Linked DNA regions of Homo sapiens. The gene in region 1 interacts genetically with each later gene. Each region holds a gene or a part of one and is shown on either strand. Other genes may lie near its edges.

Region 1 (3,755 bases):
TTCCTTGACTCTTACCAAGAGGAAATAAGATTGAGGTTTAAATGATCCACAGATTGGATAACTAGCTAACGAATACTCAGGAACTGGCTTTAAATCCAATATATACAGCCATGTCCTGCATGCTTTGGTACTAATCTTCTCCATTTTCACTTACAGTATGCAATCATCCTTTTGTTTTGTAGAATTGTGTTAAATTGCCTTTTCAAATCTGAATAGTCAAAAATCTATCTTTTTACAAGTGAAACTTAGGTTTGACAGATTCAAATTCTAAACCCACCTGTCCTCAGTGTTTCTTTTGCCTTTTCCAAAACACCACTAACCTTCATCAGGTTAGGTATGTATTAGCATCTGATGAGCAGCTCAATACAGATCAGAGTTATACTGGACACAGATAAATGCCCAGGCAATGACTATAGTCTCCAATCTTACTGAAGACTTTGTGCTACCCTGTGACAGTGCCTGGGTGTGGCAAATGAAAAGTATTAAATAAATGCTCTGTAGACTACTAATATAAATCCTCCTCTACCAGATATATGAAAAAGAACAATATGCCAATAGAATTAAAGCTTCATGAAGGAAGGAAAAAACTGCTCTGTCTTATTCATAGATATATGCCTAGCACCTAGTATACAGCCTGGCACATAGTAGATGCTCATTAAACTTCTGCTGAATAAATGAATGAACACGAGAGCAATCTCTACTACTGGTTATTCTATACTCATTGTATTCATATATTCATCAGGACAGTGTAAGAGTAAAGGGAAATGGCCAAACACTAATTCTTCACAATACTGGGATTCAGTTAAATTTAATTCATCTTATAGGTGGGTAATGATTCATAGACCTTGAAGTTCTCAAAATACAGAAAGTTAAAAAAAAAAAAAAAAAGAAAGAAAGATGCCTGGAATAAATAATATTCTAGTTATTGCTTAGTTGACTCATAGTGACATGCTTCCAACCTGGGCATCAAACAAGACACTTTAGAATAGACATCAAATCCTGATCCTCATGGCCTTAGGTTTTTATTTAGAAGGGGAGTTAGGCTGAAGTAATTCTACAAAGCCAGTTTCAGTTTGTGGTAGAATTTCTTGGGAAATGTTTTCAAGATAGTTTTTCCTTTAGAGGAATAACAAAAGTATTAGTTCATGAAGCACACAGAACATAGAAAATGCATAGAAAGAACATTCTTCATTCTCTTTACTTGCTAAATAAAGCCAAGCCCAAAGCAATGCAATCTATTTGATGTGTTAGTAATTTATTTTTAGATCCTAGAGTCAATGTTGGCCTTGCTGCCTTTACAACCAAGGAGTCCTTATGAAAAAGAAATAGTAATTTGGCTATAGTGTTGAAATCAGCTTTTTGTTCAAATGTATACACTATAGTAGGGTTTAGAGTGTGGGCTCTGGAGATAGATCTAGATTCAAATCTAAGCTCAGATTTCATTGTTTTTATTAGCTGACAAATATCCTACTCACTTCTAATCTTTGAAAAAGTATGTAAAATAAGTGTGGATTAACAACAACTCTGCTACCAGCAATTTCACCGCTAGGTATATAGAAACATTCTGCGTAAAAATGTTCCCAGCAGCATTTATAGAAAGCTCTTACCTAACATATAATGAACACTCTTATGTCAGCTATCAAAATTATTATTAATTAGCAAAAATTAGAAACAATGGCCATCATCAAATGGTTAAACTGTGATAGTCATAAAATACTACATATGAATTACAAATGAATATACCAGAGTTAAATGAATCCATAGCTGAATCTCAAAAATGTTAAAGAAAAAGTTGTAGAATAACTATATTATATATATACTATATAACATAATAGAATACTATGAATTGCTCAGGAATATAAACATGCAGTAAGAATATATGTGGATTATGGGGTGGGAGAAAGTGGGGTGCCATAAGGGGCTTCAGTGGAATGAGTAATTATCATTTTTTAAAAATGGGAGATAGGGTCATGGGGGTTCATGATATTATTCTTTGTAACTGTCTTAAATATTGCCTAATTAAAAAATTTTTTTTTATTTCTATTTTTTTTAGAGACAGGGTTTCACCATGTTGCCCAGGCTAGTCTTGAACTCCTGGGCTCAAGTGATCCATCCGCCTCAACCTCCTAAAGTCCCGGGATTACACGCGTCATCTACTGTGCCTGGCTACTCCCAATATTTTCTTGAAACAAGTGGATGACTTACAGAGAGCATAAGCTTCAAAGATAAGAATGTATTTTCCATACATTTAATATGGTAATACACTAGTTTCCCAAAAAAGTACCAAAATTAAAGATAGCTTTGATAATTAATAACAAGGATACACAGTGCATTAGATACCCTCTAATACAATAAACACCAGAAAAGCAGTATGTATACCTGGCACCTGGGTAGATCCACAGGTCCATTTAGCAATTGAAAAACACAAGAAATACATGCCACACGGGCAAATCAGCCACCTTTTCCCTACACTGGCTGAATTAGACACTTATATTTTTGATACAAACTTATTCTGAAGTTCTAGCAGGTTTCTTCTGACACTGTAACAATCTTTGCCTAAGGATTCCAAATAAATGCTAGTCTCGAGAATTCAGAAGAATTTTAATAAGTCACTAAAAAATAAAACAATGAATGGCAAAACAAAACACCAAAAATTCACCAATAGACCAACTTACAGAAGTTATATATTTTAGTTTATTTTTTAATGCTTTAAAAACACAGTTAAGGCATAGGAGACAGAATCTGGTAGTACCTATACCTGTCGCGTCTTCCATCTCGGGTACTGCTATGACTGTAACTTGTACATAGTTTGCTGAAGGAAACTAGTTTCAGGTCAAGTTCATTTTCCAGCTGTCGAGCCTGTTTCCTGAGATCTTTAACAAAATTATAACAACAAATAATTAGACATAAAAAGTAGACACAAAAATCACAGCACCATTCTAAAGAAAACAAACTATGAAAATGATCATATACTGATCTTGTTACCCCCATAAAGAAAAGTGTTGGCTGGGCACGGTGGTGCACGCCTGTAATCCCACCACTTTGGGAGGCCAAGGTGGGCGGATCACCTGAGGTCGGGAGTTTGAGACCAGCCTGATCAACATGGAGAAACCCTATCTCTACTAAAAATAGAAAATTAGCCAGGTGTGGTGGCGCACGCCTGTAATCCCAGCTACTCGGAAGGCTGAGGCAGGAGAATCGCTTGAACGCAGGAGGCAGAGGTTGCGGTGAGCCAAGATTGCGCCATCGTACTCCAGCCTGGGTAACAAGAACAAAACTATGTCTCAAAAAAAGGAAAATAAAAGTCTTAAAAGAAGGAAACCAAGGACTTGCCCAGCAAAGCAGATTAGTCACTTATAAACTTCAGAGGGGGCAAGAAGGGAAATAGTAATGGTAGATGCAACTTCGCAGCTTTACTCCAAAGATGGCTAGAAAACAAATGTTGTTCTATCCTTCCTGAAACTATTTGTATAGCAATAACTAAAATTCTGCAATTCAGAGAAAAACAAGAAGATAATACAAATCACAAAGGAACTAAAAATATGGTTTATGACCAGCATTATCAACTTACCAGTTAATGTTATAAGAAAGAAGCCATTATTCTTTTGAAAGGGATTTTGCTTTTTATGTTCCAAAGCTTTATTAGGCTTATGAACTTCTTTTCATAATAGCAAAATGACTTACCTTTTTTTTTCTTTTTTTTTTTGAGATGGAGTCTCGTTCTGTCACCCAGGCTGGAGTGCAGTGGCATGACC
Region 2 (3,755 bases), on another chromosome or scaffold:
TTGTCCCCAGCTACGTGGAACTATAAGTCCATTAAACCTCTTTCTTTGGTAAATTGCCCAGTCTTGGGTATGACTTTATCAGCAGCATGAAAATGGACTAATACAGCTACTATTCCTCTGTACCACCTTACGGACTCTTACCAAGTGAAATTTGTTCACTGTTAAAAGAACACATGTGTACCACTATGTCTCTGCCTCTGATTACCATGTCTCCCTTGCCTTGTTATCTGTATCCTCCCATTCTTTCAAGATCCTCTTCGCATTCCCTCTCCCCCAAGAAACCTTCCAGATTGACATAATCTCCAGTGATCTTTCATCTTCCATGTTAATGACATACATTAACAAATACTAAACTGCTATTTAGCTTTGACTAGTACATTTTCTCACCCAAGCAATCACAAATCTTGTGGAATAGGAAAAATGTTTTCATGCCTAACATAATACTTTATAACTGTAGGCATTCATTAGTGCTTGTTAATGACAATTAAAAATTATTGTATCAAACGTGCATTTAATGAAGTGCCAAAAACATAATAGATATAAAAAAACCTTTTTTTCTTTTTTTTTTTTTTGAGATGGAGTCTAACTCTGTCACCCAGGCTGGAGTGCAGTGGCGTGATCTTGGCTCACTGCAACCTTCACCTCCCGGGTTCAAGCCTTAGCCTCTCCTGCCTTAGCCTCCCGAGTAGCTGGGACTACAGGTGTGCACCACCACACCTGGCTAATTTTTGTATTTTTAGTAGAGATGGGGTTTCACCATGTTGGCCAGGCTGGTCTTGAACTCCTGACCTCAGGTGATCCACCTGCTTCAGCCTCCTAAAGTGCTAGGATTACAGGCATGAGCCACCATGCCCGGCCTAAAAAAAAACCTTTGTTAAAGACTAAAATACATCCCAAGTAAGAATGTTACTTACTTTTACTAATATGTCTTTTACAACTTGATTGCTATCATTATGAACGCTGATATAACTGGAAAAGGTCTCTCCCAAAAATATATTCCTGTAAAATAAAATAAGTATTTAGGCAGAAATCCATTCAGGTTTTTTTTCTTTTTTTTTTTTTTTGAGACAGAGTCTCGCTCTGTCACCCAGGCTGGAGTGCAGTGGCACGATCTAGGCTCACTGCAAACTCCGCCTCCCATGTTCACCCCATTCTCCTGCCTCAGCCTCCCGAGTAGCTGAGACTACAGGCACCCACCACCACGCCTAGCTAATTTTTTGTATTTTTAGTAGAGACGGGGTTTCACCATGTTAGCCATGATGGTCTCGATCTCCTGATCTCATGATCCGCCCGCCTCAGTCTCTCAAAGTGCTGGGATTACAGGCGTGAGCCACTGTGCCCATCAGGTTTTACATTAAATAATCTGTTTGAGAATCACTAAGAACTTCAAATGGAGAAACATTTACTGAAGGATAGAAATCTGGTGAAATACTGCTTCAACATTCCTTTGTTCACACTAGGCCACTCATTCATTACCTAGTGCAATTCAAAATACAGACGTAATCTATAGAACATGATATATCTTGGCCTTTGACTACTGTACAAAATGCCAACCTCACTAGAGATAAGACTCATTGAAATTAGACCTATGCTAAAGTCTTAGGATTTGTATCTGAATAGGTTAGAGAGAGCCAAGTTTCCATTCTTGAAATAACTTATTCCCTGAATCTAGAAGAGATCTAAGTTACTGATATTGGGGTATTTTTACCAATTTATTTTATTTCCTAGGTTACTTGAATAAAAATCACCAGTGGTTTTATTTTAGTTTTATACTTTTTACATGAATATATTTCCCAGTTTTTCAAGACACTAGTCAATGACCACATTCTGTAAAACTATAAAAACAATCTGTAAAATTTCTTTTTGTCTCAAATTCTGTCTGTTGCAAACAGAGTGGAACCAGGGGCTTCTACCTTATTATTAATCTAGAATAATAATACAGCTAAGGATAACAGAAGAAATAAATTTAGAGTTCCTAATTAGCTGACAAGTCTGATAACTCATTTTGGGAGAGGACTATGATGCAAAAAAACAAAGACTGGCTTCTGAAAAAGATGTTTACATTAGTAGTTAAAAGACTATGTGGCCATTACAAAATATAGTAAGATCTAAAGAAGAAAGTTAAAATTCTATTATGCTAGGAACCACTATTAACATTTTATTTTGGTATATATCTTTTTTTTTTAATAACAGAAAGCCATAATCACATAGTATGATTTTTTAATAATATTTTTGCCCCTCAAATGTATCATGTCCTAGGCGTGGTGGCTCATGCCTGCAATCCAAGCACTTTGGGAGGCTGAGGCGGGTGGATCACCTGATGTCAGGAGTTCAAGGTCAGCCTGGCTAACATAGCAAAACACGGTCTCCAATAAAAACACAAAAATTAGCCAGAGCGGTGCGCACGCCTGTAATCCCAGCTACTCGGAAGGCTGAGGCACGAGAATTGCTTGAACCCAGGAGGTGGAGGTTGCACTGAGCTCAAATGGCACCACTGTACTCCAGCCTGGGCAATAGAGCGAGACTCCATCTCAGAAAAAAAAAAAAAAAGGTAAATGTATCATGAGCATTTCCCCATCCCATGGTTCTGTTTTGAAAACATAATTTGTAATGGCTTTACAAGGTTTCTTATGTGAATATGTCATTCTTACCCAAAATTCTGTGGTAAAGTCAGCATTTCTCCCAACATTAAAACTTCTGCACCATTAACGGTTGAAGGATCATCTCTCATCAGCTGGTTAAAGAGATCTCCTGAATGAAGAGAAAAACATAAAATTCTAACATCTACCCTTTAAATAACTTTTACTTATATAAAGAAATAGCTGGGAGAGATATTTTAAAAAACAACCTCTTGACAAAGATGATATTTAAAAAGTCTAACTTCTAGATTTTAATACAACAAAGCATGTCAAAAAAATTCTGATCTCACAGGGAATGGAAACTTTAGAAACAAAGAAAAATGTACGTCATGAGATAGAAAATATACTAGAGAAAGCCCCAATAATTCTTAAAAAAAAAAGGGAATGCTAATACATACATTGATGCAACATTTGAGGATAAAGGCAATTTTAATAGTATTATGAATATGAATGTATCTTAAACTGTCTCATACTGCCATAGGATATCAACATAATTTGGACTTGTAGAGTATAAGTAAGGCCTGTTACTCAGATGGCCACCTTTCACATGATACAAAAATAGGCAACAAAGAATCCAGCAAATGGTTAGCATAAAATTTACAGGGCTAGGCTTAGTCCAAGGTAATGCAGGCAATTCAGGTTTCAACCTTTCCCTAGGTGCAAATAGAGGAAAGCATGTGCCATACCAGGTAAGTCTTTCTCTTCACATGTTACTGGGATATTGGTGAATAAAGTAGGCTTAGTCAGCCGCATCACTGTGAAGTAAAAAAGTAAAAGAAAACAAAACATTAATACTGCTTAGGGTTAATATTCTCAAGTCTAGTGTATGACATTCATCCATTTTATACTAACATAAAATATAACCTAAATACTTCCTAAATATAATACTACATACTTCCTAAGGTTATCACACATCAGTGATTTATTAAGAATTGTAATGTTACAAAATAAGCACCATTTATTTACAACCTATGAATTATAAAAATTAAATGTAAATACAATATGCATTCATTATAGAAAAACTGGAAAATATAATTTTTAAAGCTTAAAGAGTATTAGGAGCATAAGGCTTTAAAAAAATTCTAAGTGATTTCACCATAAACAATATCAACAAAA

What was found. A genetic interaction does not mean that the proteins touch.
Region 2: changes in GOSR1 (region 1) and TRAPPC13 are lethal when combined (synthetic lethality), as found in Homo sapiens cells (one study listed by BioGRID).

The regions. Positions count from the first base shown.
Region 1 is NC_000017.11:30,480,261-30,484,015, reverse strand, and holds part of GOSR1 (Golgi SNAP receptor complex member 1), read right to left. Parts: intron 2,874-3,755; coding exon 2,759-2,873; coding exon of another isoform or gene 2,753-2,758; intron 1-2,752. UniProt on the Homo sapiens protein: Involved in transport from the ER to the Golgi apparatus as well as in intra-Golgi transport. It belongs to a super-family of proteins called t-SNAREs or soluble NSF (N-ethylmaleimide-sensitive factor) attachment protein receptor.
Region 2 is NC_000005.10:65,634,940-65,638,694, reverse strand, and holds part of TRAPPC13 (trafficking protein particle complex subunit 13), read right to left. Parts: intron 3,395-3,755; coding exon 3,326-3,394; intron 2,752-3,325; coding exon 2,652-2,751; intron 1,000-2,651; coding exon 915-999; intron 1-914.